2 separate regions of the Homo sapiens genome follow, and region 2 is linked to region 1. The links come from fine-mapping of genetic effects on gene expression. Tissue or cell type: whole blood. Region 1 holds a variant in brackets; the other region holds the start of a gene. All regions are shown on one strand. Distances are between the middles of the regions.

The links. PIP is the estimated chance that this variant, and not a neighbour inherited with it, causes the effect.
Region 2: TRAF1 starts here. The variant in region 1 is fine-mapped to the expression of TRAF1 in whole blood (TOPMed, PIP above 0.99).

Annotation. Positions count from the first base shown.
Region 1 is chr9:120,735,118-120,743,382 of GRCh38, reverse strand. No RefSeq gene overlaps it. Among named protein-coding and RNA genes, the nearest start is that of MEGF9, 25 kb to the right of the region's middle. The variant G/A (reference allele first, on the strand shown) is at 5,081.
Region 2 is chr9:120,923,063-120,931,062 of GRCh38, reverse strand. TRAF1 (TNF receptor associated factor 1) reads left to right here and starts at 4,267. Exons shown (of 8, transcript NM_005658.5): 1 at 4,267-4,513; 2 at 4,762-5,127; 3 at 7,271-7,358. The coding sequence starts at 4,988. RefSeq lists a silencer at 1,739-2,328 and enhancers at 3,989-4,308, 4,649-4,988, 5,449-5,518, 5,115-5,638.

The DNA.
Region 1 (8,265 bases):
CTTCAGGTGATCCACCCACCTCGGCCTCCCAAAGTGCTGGGATTACAGACCTGAGCCACCGCATCTGGCCCCAAAGCAGCTTTCTAAGTTTGTAAATAGCATTACAGAAATCATCCACCTTTGCTCAGCCCAGTGCCTGGCAGCCGACAAGCCCTCGCTGTTGGTCCAGGGATGAATGAATGTCATCAGTGATTGATTCCACAGTCTTCCACAGTGTGCCACTTGTCTAGACATATTGGCCTATACTGTCCCCTAGTGGAATTTGAGAATTGGTACATTCCACCTGAGACCTAAGGATACATTCTCTAATGGGAGATTGAATTGTAGGATTCCAGGTTACAGATAAGGGCGGTGGCCCCTGAACTTTAGCACAGATACAAGTTATAGAGTGATCTTATCAAGAATGACAGATTTGGCTGGGCGCAGTTGCTCATGCCTGTAATCCCAGCACTCTGGGAAGCTGAAGCGGGCAGATCACGAGGTCAAGAGATCGAGACCATCCTGGCCAACATGGTGAAACCCCATCTCTACTAAAAATACAAAAATTAGCTGGGCATGGTGGCGCATGCCTGTAATCCCAGCTACTCAGGAGGCTGAGGCAGGAGAATCGCTTGAACCTGGGAGGCAGAAGTTGCAGTGAGATCCGCCACTGCATTCCAGCCTGGCGACAGAGCGAGACTCCGTCTCAAATAAATAAATAAATAAATAATAATAATAATAATAAAAGAATAGCAGATTCCTGGGCTCCATCCCAATAAGTTCAATAAGTCTGAAATGGTCTAAATTCATTAAGTCCTAGCCCTTTATTTAACCTCTGTAATGAGTGGGTGCTCGAGGTTGAGGCTACAGTTGTGGGAAGAGGACCCTATGTTTAAGGGCAATGAGATGAGCATTAGAAAACAGATCTGTCACTTAGTCTGTGTAATCTTGGGAAATCCACTTAATATCTATGATTCTAGTTCTCTCATCTGTGAAATAGAGTTAATGATACCTATCTCATAGGGCTGTTGTAAGATTAGAAATAGTGCCTAGTTACAATGCTTAGTAGCTAAATTATAACTCATAAAGTGGGGGTTAATATTATTGGTATAGTACAATGACAAAGGTTTGTAAAAAATGTATAGCGTTGGCCAGGTGTCGTGACTCATGCCTGTAATCCCAGCACTTTGGGAGGCCAAGGCAGGAGGATTACTTGAGCCCAGGAGTTTGAGACCAGCATGGGCAACATAGTGAGACCCCCATCTCTATATTGAAAAAAACTTTAAAAATATGTAAAGTGTATAGTAGATGTTCAACAAACATTAGCAGAATTTAAATACTGTAAGCACCAGAAGAGTGAGAATCATGTCTGTTTACCATTGATTACCAGGATCTAGTGTGTTAAAAACAGCATGTAGTAGGTGCGCAACAAATATTTTTTGAATGAATGAATGAGACACTCATATCCTGTTTCTATCAGTGTGAATGTTTGTTTTCCCAATGTATATTTCCTTATAAGCACTGGATGTACCAGAAATTTGTTGTGTGTGTATGTTTTAAGTTGTTTTGTTTTAAGTTCTCCAAGGACTTACAGACACTTTGTTTTTTTGTGTACCTCAACACTGACTAAGCTGCCAGGAGTCAAGCTGTTTTTAGAAAAGTTCTTTTTATTCAGCAGAACATTGACTACAAAAAGAAAAAGAAAAAAAAAGGTGTTTTTTTTTGTTTTTTTTTTTAGTTATATAGTGATAAGAACACCAGCCTTGAAGACAAACTACTTCAGTTCAAATCTCAATTCTAACTAGTTGTGTTACTTTAGCAAGTCACTCACCCTCTCTGGACCTCAGTTTCCCCATTTGAAACATGAAGGAGTTCAAGGATCATTTCTGCTCTAATGTATTAGGATTCTGTATGTCTAATTCAGTGTTTTAAATAACCCCTTTATTGTAAAACTAATACATGTCTATTGCCAAATATTTGAAAAATATCAAAAGGAGTAAATAAGGAAGTAAAAACCGCTGTCAATAGCACTCACCCAGAAGAACCACTGTTGACATTTGGGTGAATATTCTTCTAGTCCTCTTTACAGCTATGGATAATTTTTACCAAAAATTATCAGAACATATATTCCATTTTGTAATGTGCTTTCTCACTTAATATGTTAGCAGACTTTTTACATCATCAGTGTTCTTCAAGAGCATGATTCTAATCTCTGTGGAAGGTTGAATCATAATTCATTTAAACAATCCCCATTGGATATTTAGGTTAGTTCTATTTTTTAGCATAAGTAAGGCTTCGACAACCAGCCTTTATACAAATCTGTACCCACATCTCTACATTTTTCCCCTTAGGTTAAATTGTAAATTTTTTTTTTTTTTTTTTGAGACAGTGTCTCCCTCCATTACCCAGGCTGGAGTGCAGTCGTGCGATCGTAGCTCACTGCAGCCTCAAACTCCTGGGCTCAAACCATCCTCCCGCTTTAGCCTCCCCGTGTAGCTGGGGATACAGGTGTACACCACCAAACCTGGCCAAAACTTTTAAATGTATCACCAAATTGCCCTCCAAGTGAAGTTACACATGTGTACACTCTCATGAGTAACGTTTGAGTGGCTATTTCCCCATGATCTCTCCAACACTGGTTATTGTGGTTTTTTAAAAGACCTTGCCAATGTCATAGGTAAAAAAATAGCATATCATTGTTTGAATCTAATGTTATTTTCATTATACTGTTTTATTTCTGGTAGAATGTAAAATTGCATACATACTATTTTTACAACTTTATAAAAATACATGGAACACACATGTTTCAAATGTGGAAAGAACAATAGAAAAATGTCAGTAGTTGTATGATGGGATTGTAATATAATTCTTTTATGTTGTAAATTTTTTAAATTAAAAAGAATCTCTGTAGCAGATGGCTACTTATTCCTCCAAATTCTTCCCCTCTTCCTGGGCACAGTTGCCCAGCTACAGGCTACATTTCCTAGACTCCTGTGCAGCTGGATGTGACCATGTGGTTAAGTGTGGACTAACCAAATATTGAAAGGAAGTGATGTGAACATTTTCTGGGTCATCTCCAGATTTAAGCTCCTTATCTGGAATGTTGGTTCTTCCTCCTTTCCCAGAGTTAGCAACCCAGCCTTGATTAAGCAAATAATGACACCTTAGGGGATGGAGACCAACAGGGAAACTACCTGTTTTTTGTTTTTTGTTTTTTTGACAGAGTCTTGCTCTGTAGCCCAGTGGCATCATCTTGACTCACTGCAACCTCCGCCTCCTGGGTTCAAGCAATTCTCCCTGCCTCAGCCTCCCGAGTAGCTGGGATTACAGGTGTCCGCCACCACGCCCTGCTAATTTTTGTATTTTTAGTAGAGACGGGGTTTCGCCATATTGGCCAGGCTGGCCTTGAACTCCTGACCTCAGGTGATCCACCTGCCTCGGCCTCCCAAAGTGCTGGGATTACAGGCATGTGCCACCGCTCCTGGCTGAAACTGTATCTGTTTATGGCGGCATCACTTGACCAATCCAGCCTGGTTGTTTTGTTTTGTAAGAGAAAAATTAATTTTGATGTTTTTGCACCCACGATATTTTGGGGCCTCTTTGTTACAGCAGTGTAGCTGTGACCCTAATAATCTCAAACTTCTCCCTAAGACTGGGGACATTTTAGGGACAGTTTCACAGTTTGTGGAGCTGATTGGAAGCTGGTAGCAGAGGACTGGGAAGCTACTATATACTTTCCTGAATACTAGAAAATGTTTTTTTTTTATATTCCTTCATATAAACTTTAACAAAATTCTGTGTTAGTATATTTTTTGTTTACAAGGTTTAGAAATAAAAAAATATAATTTATGGTCGATACAAAATACAAAATCACAACGTAAACATCACAACTATAAGTATCCAAAAAAATAAGCTGCCAACCAACATGCTCCATTGAGGATAAATTTCTCTTATTAATAATACTTTGAAGGCTACAGGTTATCACTGGTTTTGCTACATTGTGTACTTTTAATGGCAATGATTGTGGTTTACATGATCATGACAATAAGAAGCATACTTTTATTTTTTTATTTTTATTCTTTTTTTTTTTGAGACGGAGTCTCACTCTGTCGCCCAGGCTGGAGTGCAGTGGTGCGATCTCAGCTCACTGCAACCTCCGCCTCCTGTGTTCACGCCGTTCTCCTGCCTCAGCCTGCCGAGCAGCTGGGACAACAGGCGCCCGCCACCACGGCCGGCTAATTTTTTTTTTCTTTTTTCGTATTTTGAGTAGAGATGGGGTTTCACCATGTTAGCCAGGATGGTCTCGATCTCCTGACCTCGTGATCCGCCCGCCTCGGCCTCCCAAAGTGCTGGGATTACAGGCATGAGCCACCGCGCCTGGCCATTTTTATTCTATTTTTTAAGACAGGGTCTCACTCTGTTGCCTAGGCTGGAGTGCAGTAGCGTGATCATGGCTCACTGCAACCTCCGCCTCCCAGGTCCAAGTGATTCTCCTGCCTCAGCCTCCTGAGTAGCTGGGACTACAGGTGCACGCCACTACGCCCAGCTAATTTTGTATTAGTGGAGACAGGGTTTCACCATGTTGGCCAAGCTGGTCTCGAACTCCTGGCCTCATGTGATCCACCCCCTTGGCCTCTCAAAGTACTGGGATTACAGGCAGGAAGGATACTTTTAAAAAACAGTTTCAGGCTGGGCGTGGTGGGTTTCATCTTTATCCTAGCACTTTGGGAGGCCGAGGCAGGTGGATCACTTGAGGTCAGGAGTTGGAGACCAGCCTGGCCAACATGTGAAACCCCGTCTCTACTAAAGATACAAAAATTAGTTGAGCGTTGTGGCAGACACCTGTAATCCCAATTACTTGGGAGGCTGAGGCAGGAGAATTGCTCAAAACCCGGGTTTCGATGAGCCAATATGGCACCGCTGCACTGCAGCCTGGGCAATAGAGTGAGACTCCATCTTATAAATAAATAAATAAATAACAGTTTCACATTATTGGTTCAATTGAATGGATTCACAGTTACTGCTGTTGAATGTAGTTGCAATGACTACTCTGGAAAGTACAGTGCCAGGTGGCACTCTGAGAAGTCAGCATTTGTCCTAG[G/A]TATTGGACGTTGGCAAGAGACCCCAGCACCACACACAGGAAGTTTGGAAGGTACTCATCACAACAGTTCACCCACTATCTTCATGAACAACTGGTTCCACAGCCACCAGGATGACTTGGGTCCACAATTCTCGTCACCATTATACAGCCTAGCTATGACCCACTCCCTGGGGACCTAGGGAGTCAGGACCTTCAAAATCTAGGGAAGGCAACAGTGACTTCAGCTTCCCCTCGTCACGTGGGAGGGGAGCCTTCCTTTCTCCTGAGCGGGCCCTCTCCTAGAACCCACAGTAGTTGTAGGGTGGCAGTGATCCCCAGCCTGCTCCTTAGTGAGGAAGCCTGGATTCTGTTCCTCCTTGTGACATGGCAGAGACAGGAATTTCAAGGCCAGAGGGCATGGATGTGCTTCCCAGCCCTACTTCTTACTATCGCGAGAACCAGTGTGGGCAAGGGATGCCATTTTGCATTTTGTCATGGTTTTTCCTCCACTTAAGATCACCATTTGCAATTCACTTGTTGCTATATTGCCTTCATAGTTATCATTTTAGTAATTGTACATTATTTAATTGAACAATAGAATTTACTTAAAGAGCTCCTTGTTGTGGACTCTTTAAGTAGTTCCCAATTTTGTGTTACTACAAAAATTGCTGCAATTAGTATATTTTGCAATACAACTTTTTGCTTCTGTTGGATAATTCCCTCAGGAAATGGGGTAAGTTTTGACTATCTCTTAGACTAGAAGGATGTTGTGGTAACAATATCTTTCTTTGCTTAGCAAACAATGAAGAAGACCAGAACTATCCTTCAGTAAGAAGTGCTTAACTAAACTATGCTACCTCTAATTAATGGAATACAAGGCAACTACTTAAAGAAATTAGGATTACTTTATAATAGCCAAAAATGGAAGCAATTTAGATGCTCATCAGCTAATAGATAAATAAAATATGGTATTATATCCATACAGTGGAATATTACTCAGCCATAAAAAGGAATGAGGTACATACTACAACATGGATGAATCTTGAAAACATTACGCTACATAAAATAAATTAGACACAGAAGGCCACATATAATATGATTCCATTTGTATGAAATGTGTAGAATAGGCAAATCCATAGAGATGGAAAATAAGATAAGCAGTCCTTGGGGGCAGGGGAAGGGGGCAATGGGGCATGATTACTAACAGATACAGGGTTTCTTTTTGGGATGATGAAATTGTCCTGAATTAGGTAATAGTGATGATTGCAAGAAAGACCTCATGAATATGCTAAAAACCACTGACTTGTACACTTTAAAAGGGTGAGCTTTAATACTGTAATAATACTGTAAAATTCTCAATTTTTAAAAAAGAGAAGGGTTGGGCACAGTAGCTCACGCCTGTAATCCCAGCACTTTGGGAGGCCAAGGCAGGCAGATCACCTGAGGTCAGTAGTTCGAGACCAGCCCGGCCAACATGGGGAAACCCCGTCTCTACTAAAAATACAAAAATTAGCTGGGCATGGTGGCAGGTGCCGGTAATCCCAGCTACTCCGGAGGCTGAGGCTGAAGAACCGCTTGAACCTGGGAGGCGAAAGTTGCAGTGAGCTGAGATTGTGCCATTGGGCTCCAGCCTGGGTGACAAGAGCAAAACTCCGTCTCCAAAAAAAAAAAAAGAGAGAAAGATCTAAATGTATTCACATGTTGTATTATTCATTGAAAAAAGCAAAGTACAGAATAACATCTATCCTATGCCATTTTTGTGAAAGTCTTTTTTTGATATTTCATGGTCGAGATTGTGGGGCTTCTTCCAGAATATGTCAGTCTTGCCTTCACTCTGCCATAAGTTCAGGCAAGAAAGCAGCTCCTTTCTCTAAAGAATAGATAGCACCTGCCATGCACCAGGTACTGTGATAATGTATAACAATTTCTGTGTAATGTATAATTATTCCCATTTTTCAGATGGCAAAACTGAAAGATAAGAGAGATGAGTGACTTGCCAAGTTTACACAGCAAGGACAGGAATGAAAACTCAAGCCTGTCTAACTCCAGAGAAGGAAGAGCGTGGGCTCTTGGAATCTGATTCTCAGCTTTGTTTGTTCCCTGTGGATTGTCAGGCCATGGGCCTGGAGGCTGCTCCATTTCAGGAAGCGTAGCTAACAAGAATGCTGGTTTATGAATTTACACGGAGAGGTTGTTCATGGTCCTTTATTTGAGAATAGTAGTAAGTGGACGTCAGAGAGTCATCTTGCCCCAGGGGTACGCCCCTGTATTTTGATGGGAATATTTCAGTAGCTCCTAACTGGTCCACTCATGTTGCCTGGATGTTCCATGCTCCTTCACAAAGCTGTCCTTGCTAAGTTGCTAACTAGAAAACCCTTCCTGCCTACCAGCTAGTCAACAAACTCCTACTTCCCCATCAAAACCCAGCTAATATGTCCCTTCTGTTTTCTTTTCAACAACACCATTTATAGATCCTCCAACTGAGCCTTTTTAATAACACTAGTAATGTTATCATTTATTGAGCTCCCATTATCTGCTAGGCAATTTTAAGTATTGATATACTTGTACCTTTTAATGTTCATGGTAATTATGCAATACAAGTATAACTATTTACATTTCTTCCAGATGAGGAAACAACCTCGAGATGTTAGGAAATTTGCCCAAAGTCTCACAACCAGGACATGAAGAAACAGAACTTTCTGACTCCAAAGTTCATACTCTCCCCCTTACACCACATCCCCTTTTCCTTGCACCATTCACTTTGAATTGCAAATACTGCTTGTCACTTGTCACCATCTTCACCCTTGCCCCACAAGCCCTGGCAGGCAGGTGGTGGCTCTGATTTCAGGACTGCCACCCCATTGTCCAGTACAAGGCCTGCTCTCAAGTGGCCAATCCTAAAAGTTGCATAGCAGTGAATTGTTTCATTTACAGGAACACACCTTGGAAAATAAAAGCAATGTGTTCATTCTTTCCCTGCAGATGGGATAGGCCCACTCTCTCCCCCGAAGAGGTGATAAGGGGGCAGGTCTTGTCTCCTTGAGGACTTGCAGATGTTTCCTGAGGCCCTGAGAGCATTTCTGCTTCTGACCTGCCTTGGCTGCCACTGCCAGTTAATGTGAGCTGCTGGGAAAGCCAGCTTCATGGCTCTGCTGCGTGTGGATGCCAACCACTGACTCCAGCCAGCTCTCCTGGAAACTGCCCTG
Region 2 (8,000 bases), 190 kb before region 1:
CACCCAGGAAAAGGCAAGGTCAAAGATAATTAAATGTTTTCTGATGATGGGAAAACTATCAGACTAATTGACTCAGAGTCCATCAATTTTTATTTATTTATTTATTATTTTATTATTATTATTATTTTTCTAGATGGAGTCTCGCACTCTCTCCCAGGCTGGAGTGCAGTGGAGCGATCTCAGCTCACTGCAAGCTCCGCCTCCCGGGTTCACGCCCTTCTCCTGCCTCAGCCTCCCGAGTAGCTGGGACTACAGGCGCCCGCCACCACGCCCGGCTAATTTTTTGTATTTTTAGTAGAGATGGGGTTTCACCGTGTTAGCCAGGATGGTCTCGATTTTCTGACCTTGTGATCCGCCCGCCTCGGCCTCCCAAAGTGCTGGGATTACAGGCGTGAGCCATCGCGCCCGGCCGAGTCCATCAATTTTTAATTCAAACACTTAACTCTTTGAATCCTTTTCCCGTAGAATTGAATGGCCCCACAGAGGCTACATCTGGGCAACCTCCCGTAGATTGCAGAAATTCTCTCTTAGAGGCCCCTGCCCATAGATTGCAGAAATTCTCTCTTAGAGGCCCCTGAGATCTTCTGCTTGTCCACAAGCAGCATCTCCCTCCCAGGTGGGCCTCTGAGGTCCCCCTTTCACTAGAGTACCCTGTGTTCCGCAGCTTCCGCCTGTCTAGCGGAAGTTGGAGGACAGCAGCTCTGCCTCCAATAAGTGAGAGTCTTACAGGCATGCCAGGTTAAAAAACAAGTAAAAGATCGTTCCCTGCTCTTACAATCCAGTTGAGAGTCAGGACATAAAAAGGGACCCTAGGCCAGGCGCGGTGGCTCATGCCTGTAATCCCAGCACTTTGGGAGGCCGAGGTGGGAGGATCACCTGAAGTCAGGAGATCGAGATCAGCCTAGCCAACGTGGTGAGACCCCCGTCTCTACTAAAAATACAAAAATTAGCCAGGCGTGGTCGTGGGCGTGGTGGTGGGCCCAGCTACTCAGGAGGCTGAAACAGGAGAATCACTTGAACCCGGGAGGCAGAGGTTGCAGTGAGCCGCGATTGGGCCATTGCACTCCAGCCTGGGTGACAAGAGCCAAACTCCATCTCAAAAAAAAAAAGACCCTAACACATAAAGAGATTTTGAGCTGTTAAAACCAAACCAACAAGGTGGGCAGCTTCATCCCTCCCTCCACCATCAGTCCTACAAGGTTAAGACATCTGACAGAGAAGGAGCCCTTGTCAAATTGGTAGTTCGCAAAAATAAAGGTGTAGCTTTTAATCTAAAATTCTACCCCAACACTAAGTTCCATAACTATTTTGATTAATATATTCTTAAGGATTTAGCGACCGTGTGTGTGTGTGTTTAGACGAAAACAGAAACGGTTCCTTAAAATATCCAGTTTGTAAAAGCACAGTGCCTTGAACCACTTAGTACTATCATTTTGATCAAGTACTATCAAGTACTATCACTTGATTGCTCCAACCCAATAAGCTTGGGCGAGCCTGGCACTGTGCTAGGATCTTCTGGAGAAATCCAAGAAAGGTAAGACTGCGGTTTTACTCCTCTTCACCTTCTCACTACTCGGATTTTGGGCAGGCAGGGGACCAGGGTGGGGGCTCCAATTCCCGGTTTGTGTTTGTTTTTTCAGGGGGCATCTTACTGAGCACTAAACACGCGCAGGTGCTGCACCAGATGCCAGGAGCCCCGCAAGCGGAGGAGCTGCGTACACGCGTGTCAGTTAACTGGGCGCACAGTGCCCGTGGCGCCGCAGACCCGGCCCTCAGACTCAGTTTCCCCTCACAGGGATCGCTCGCCCCGCCCCGCGGCGGTCTGGGGAGCAGCAGCCCCGGGCCCCGGCCCTGCCTTGCCGGTTTCCGCCGGTGCGGCTGCGTCCTTCACACTCCACCGGAAGCTCCGGGCCTGGCCGCCGGTAGGCGGTGGCGGAGGCGGCGCCGAGGTTGGCTGCCCTACACCCCTGCCCCGGGACCGCAGGGCGGCTCCCCGGCCCCCTTCCTCGCCCCGAACTCCCCGCTCCAGCTCCCGCTTGCTGAGGCGGGGACTCCTCGGGTGCAGCCGGGGACCTGGCACCTCGGCTGCAGAGACCGCCCCGGACTCAACTGCCCCCAGCCCAGCCGCGGGCGCCCCGGCCCCGCAGGGGCTCATTCCTCTTTCCGCGGGCACCGGCGCTGCCTGGCTCCCAGCGCTGCCCTCGCAACTGGATATGTGGAGGTGGCGACGCGACACTCCCCCGCCCTCGGGCGGGCTCACCGACCTGGCTGGGGGCTCAGCCTGCAGAGCCGGGCGGCGGGGGCTGTGCTGGCGCCGGCAGGCGCGAGGAATCACAGAGCGGGGCGCCCAGCCTCATCATGGGGCGGCCCACGGAGACTTCCCGTGGGAGTGGGGTCTGGTGCAGGGGCGCCCCAAAGGACGAGTGGGAGATGGGGACACGCGGCGCAGAGAGACTCCTCGTGGATGGAGCCGATGGAGGCCCAGTGTAGAAGAGAAAGGGGTCAAGGAGACGGATAAGGAGCCACCAGAGACGCGGGGGGAATTCCCCGCAGAGGATGCGGGAAGCCGGGGAAAGGAAGGGATTCCGGAAGGAAGGGCTGAGAGCCGGGTCAGGTGCTGGCAGGAGGGCTGGTTGGATAGAAACTGGGGCGGGCCCAGGGCATTTGGCGTCCCCGACATGCGTATACACTTGGAGAGATGATTCCCTGGAGATCCAAGTGCCTGTATAGACAATCTTTTCTAGAAGTTCTACCGTTAGGTGAGGCGAGAGTAGATGTAGAAATTGGAGACGAGAATAAAGAGTGTTTTAAAAGCGTGCGTGGTTACAGGACTGGCTCTGGGTTCAGGGGTCCCCACTCACTAGCTGTGAGACCTTGAACAAGTCGCTTAGCCTCTCTGTGCCTCAGTTTTCTCATCTGTAAGGTGGGGATGATGATGGCAATACCTGCTTCACAGAGTGAAAATTAGATGAGATGATGTCTGTAAAATTACGTAAGACGGTACCCAAAAGTAGTACTATTTTTCCCTTTTCTTATTAGAGCAGGTTGCGCACGTTTTGATGTCCGTGGGAATGAGCAGGTAGAGAGGGTGGTATTGAGGCCGGAGGGGAGAGAAGGGACCCACAGATGGGGAGAGAAGTCTTGGGTGCCTGTTTTATCCCAAACCAGGGGAAGGAGGGAACAGGTAGGGCTGGCTGCAGGAAAGCTTGCAGGTATGGGGTACACAGTTAAAAGGGAGTGTCTTCTGATAGTCTTGATGCAGGCCTGGAGGTCGTTTGTTATGGGGGTGGAGGTCCTGATGTACATTGTGGCGGTAAGATGCCGTGCTGTCTTTGCCACCAGCCTGTGGCAGCCCTGGTGTTACACCAGGGCAGGTGGGCAGTTTAATGTATCTCAGGCCAGATGACCTGCCCTGCCCACCTGTTGAGGCTCCAGTAGATAGACGTGAAAGCACAGTATAAGCATAATGCACCACTTTAATCCTTTTCTCTGAGGAGCTGGAAGGCCTGTAGTCACCATCTGAGCCAAATGTCATTCAAGTACTTCACTTGGGTTACACACCACACTTTGACCCACTATCTCATTTAGTCATCACAACAAATGGGTGAAATAGGTATTATTGTCCCATTTTACAGATGCAGAATCTGAGTTTCAGGGAAGTTAAGGACTTTGTCCCAGGGCCCACAGTTAGTAAGCAGTGGACCCAGGATTTCAACTCAGCTCTGTCTGACCTCAAAACCCATGATCTGAAACCACTGTGAAAGTTTGCAAAACCTCTGTAGCAGCCAAGCAGGATGGAAAGATGTGTAGGGATTGTCTTCTCCATTTGATAGATGAGACAAGAGCTGGGTACTCTGATCTCCATCCCAAGCACACAGAGCTTGGGGCCCCACAGCCCTGGTGTGAATCCCACTCCACTACCAGAGGCTGTGTGCCTTTGGACCAGGCATCTTGCTTCTCTGACCCTATATACAGCTGCAGAAGAATTCCTTGCAGGTTGCTGTAAGGATTTGGAGGGAAACTGTTGCCCAGCACACAGTACACATTCTGGGAGCCATCGTTTCCCCAGTGCACTTTTCCTGCAAATGTGGATCTACATCCCACTTGGATGCTGAGACCAGCTGCTGTGATCTTGCATTTGTTTAGCGCTTTGTTCTCCTTGAGGCAGTAAAGTGGTGGCACCTGACCGGAGCATGTAGCCACCTATGACTTCCTGAGTGGGGTGGTGTGGGGAGGGCCCTGAGGAGTCTGTGGTCCTAGGCCTTGGATTTCATCAGGGCTTTCCTGCTCCTTCTGGTTGCCTCAGTCCCAGGCAAGATAGGGTCCCAGAATCTTACAGCCCAGAGGCCACCTGTTGCAACTTCTTTTTTACAGATGGAGTCATCAGAACCCACTGTGAGGAAGTGACTTCTCCTTGAGGTCACCCAGACACTCCAAACAGAGCAGAGCAAAAGCGCCTAGAACTTGAAATTTTGGACCTGTCTCCAACACCCTGGGGATTTCCACCAGGAAGGTGAGCACCCCCACTGAGAATTCCAGGCTGCTCAGAGGTGCCAGGGAACACAGACCAGGGACCAGCTGTGGCCCCCTCCTCCGATGTGCCCAGGGAAGTGGGGGAAGCCAGCGGCAGCCTGCGATTCTCAACCAGGGGAACTCTCACTGTGCTTTCTGAGAGTCTGTGACACGGGTCATTTTCTCTGACTTGCTCTCTTGCTTTTTCTCACTCTAAAAAAAAAAAAAAATGACTGGACACTCCTAAAGCCTTCAGTCACCATCCAGGGGATTTTTATCGCCACAAAGGGTAATTCCTGCTCCATCCCTGCTGTGACTCAGCTGTGACGTTGAACCACACAAGCCAGAGAGAAGAAGATAAAGTCATCAGAGCTCCTACTCACCAGAGAGTGAGGCCCAGGCCAGGACTCCACAAGGCTGGTCCCCTGCCCTGGAGCAACTTAAACAGGCCCTCTGGCCAGCCTGGAACCCTGAGATGGCCTCCAGCTCAGGCAGCAGTCCTCGCCCGGCCCCTGATGAGAATGAGTTTCCCTTTGGGTGCCCTCCCACCGTCTGCCAGGACCCAAAGGAGCCCAGGGCTCTCTGCTGTGCAGGCTGTCTCTCTGAGAACCCGAGGTGAGGTGATGGAGGAGCGGAGGGTGGGCAGAAAGTGGGTGCCAGGGAGGGACCCCTGATGGGAGGTGAGGGGCAGAGGAGCCTGTGACTTCAGGCGGTGACTTTTCTTCTCTGGGCCTCAGTTTCCACACCCTTTTCTCACACTCCCTGACACTGCCCCTCTGGCTGTGGTGGAAGGAGAGGAAGCCACAGAAAGGCATCAGCTCCCACAGGGGAAAGCCATCCACACCGAGGAGAGCCTCGAGGCTGTGAGGCCACTGTCTCACTGTGTGGTCTGGTGCTCTGCTAATGTCCCTAAGCCGCAGCTCGCTTGTCTGTAAAGCTGTTTTCTGTGTCATAGAATTGTTAATGAAGCCCAATGAATAATAATCACAAAAGTCCTTATAATAACAAATATAAACCTCTTGGTGAATGACAAACTGTTAGACGAATATCTCTCCTTCCACAGCATTGCTCATCACCTCAGACCGTTTGCTGGGAACCCTTTTGGAGGGGACAAAGAGATCGATATATATTTGTGTATTTAATGATACTTAAAATATTAACAACCCAGAAAGGCATGATATCAGTACTATTGTGGACATCCCTCTTTAAGCAATTATGCACCTACTGTGTGCCAAATGCTCTGCCCTTGGGTCCTCAGCACAACTTAGAGGGGTGGATACTATTATGATCCTATTTTACAAATGAGAACACTGAGGCCTAACAGATTAGGTCAGCTTTGGTCAGTTTCCTGGCAAATATGCCCTTAAACTATCTCATGTGATGACCTTTTGTTTGCGGTTTTACAGCTTAAGAAGGTGGCAAAGCTGAATCAGGCAAGTGAGAAGTTCAAACATGACGACAAAGGAGGAGGCTGTGAGAATAGCGAGGAGAGGCTGTGGCCGTGGAAAGGCCAGCCAGGAGGTGGAGGAGCAGAGGTTCACTGGTTTTACCATCAAGCGGATTGTCAGGGTTCAGCTCAGGCTCTGGTAGTGGGTCTCCTGGTTTCCCCTCTCCCTCCTTCCAAAACCTGGCAGAGGAGGGAGCTGATTGGAAGTTGGAGGGCTGAGGCCTGAGGCCTAAGTCCTGAAGAGCTTCTACTCAGCTCTGCTCCTGACTCACTCTACCTTGACCAATCCACATGCCCTCTGGGGCCTCATTCCCTCACTTGTAAAATAGACTATCTCGGTAGCGGTAGCAGGTCAGAGACACCAGGAGCTTTGTAAAAACACAGTTGCTGGCCAGGCGCAGTGGCTCATGCCTGTAATCCCAGCACTTTGGCAGGCCGAGGCAGGAGGATCACTTGAGGTCAGGAGTTTGAGACCAGCCTGGCCAACAAGGTGAAACCTCATCTCTACTAAAAATACAAGAATTAGCTGGGTGTGGTGGTGTGCACCTGTAATCCCAGCTACTTGGGAGGCTAAGGCATGAGAATCACTTGAACCTGGGAGGCAGAGGTTGCAGTGAGCTGAGATCGCACCACTGCACTCCAGCCTGGGCTACAGAGTAAGACCCTGTCTCAAAAAAAGAAAAACCCCCAAAAAACAGACAAAAAACCCACGGGTACCCAGGTGTTACCCATTAGAATCTGACACCCATTCCTGATTAAGAACCTCTAGGACAGATGTTCTCTGAGGCCCTTTCTTGTTCTAATAGGCCATGATCCTCTGTAATTACTAAACATATAAGACCAAAACCAAATGGAGGACCAAATGAGAAGAGCAAATATAGTCACATGTCAGCAATCTTTTGCCTAAACCCCTGAGATCAGATGTGTTTTGTAATTCAGAATTTTTTTTAGAAAAGCAAATCAGGGCATCATGTAATTGTGGCAGGGAATGCGGCAGTGCCCTGTAATCAAGCACATTAATGTTTCTGCAATGAAACATGTATATATTCACACTAAGTGGGGCAAGTAAGGGCTATAATAGCTTCCGGTCAGTGCAGTCACGGCAGGTTTGGCAGCCCAGGAAGCTCACTGCAAACTACCAAAAAATGTGGGATACTCGGCAGTTTTGCGATTTAGGAACTGTGGCTCTGGGATTGTGGACGTACATGATCACCACCCTGCTGATAGTTGAGGCTTCTGGAGCTGTCAGGAGAGTGGATGGTGCAGGGAGCTGTAGTGCCTCTCTCCAAGGCTTTGTCCATGTTTCCCCAGGAATGGCGAGGATCAGATCTGCCCCAAATGCAGAGGGGAAGACCTCCAGTCTATAAGCCCAGGAAGCCGTCTTCGAACTCAGGAGAAGGTACGTTGGCACATCACAGAAAGGCATTTGTCCGTTGTCTTGATTTTTCCAGGTTGAAGCCAAGTAGACAGCTGCCCACTCCACCCCTGGCAGGCACCTCCCAACTAGTCCTGAGTCCAGACTGAATTTGCTTTATAAGGAATAAGGAGACTGATGTTCACAGTGGTGAAGTGTCTTGCCTAAAGCTACCTGGCAATAGACTTAGAGTGAGAACAGTCCAGACCAGGGGTCCACAAACTACGGTTCATGGGCCACATTCTGGCCCACCACCTAAGCAACGAGCTAAGAGTGGTTTTTATATTTTCAAATGGTTGAAAAAATCAGAAGAATGATAGGCCATGCATAATGACCTGTAATTCTCGAGGCTGTGAGGCCACTCTCTCACTGTGTGGCCTGCTGCACTGCTAATGTTCTCAAGCCACAGCTTGCTTGTCTGTAAAACTGTTTTCTGCATCACAGAATTGTTATGAGCCCCAATCAATAATAATCAAAAAAGTTCTTATAATAACAAATATAAACCCCTTGGTAAATGACAAACATGCCTGTAATTCTGAAGTGTTAGAATTCAAATTACATAGAATTACATGCCTGTAATTCTAACACTTTGGGAGGCCGAGGTGGGCGGAGAGCTTGAGCCCAGGA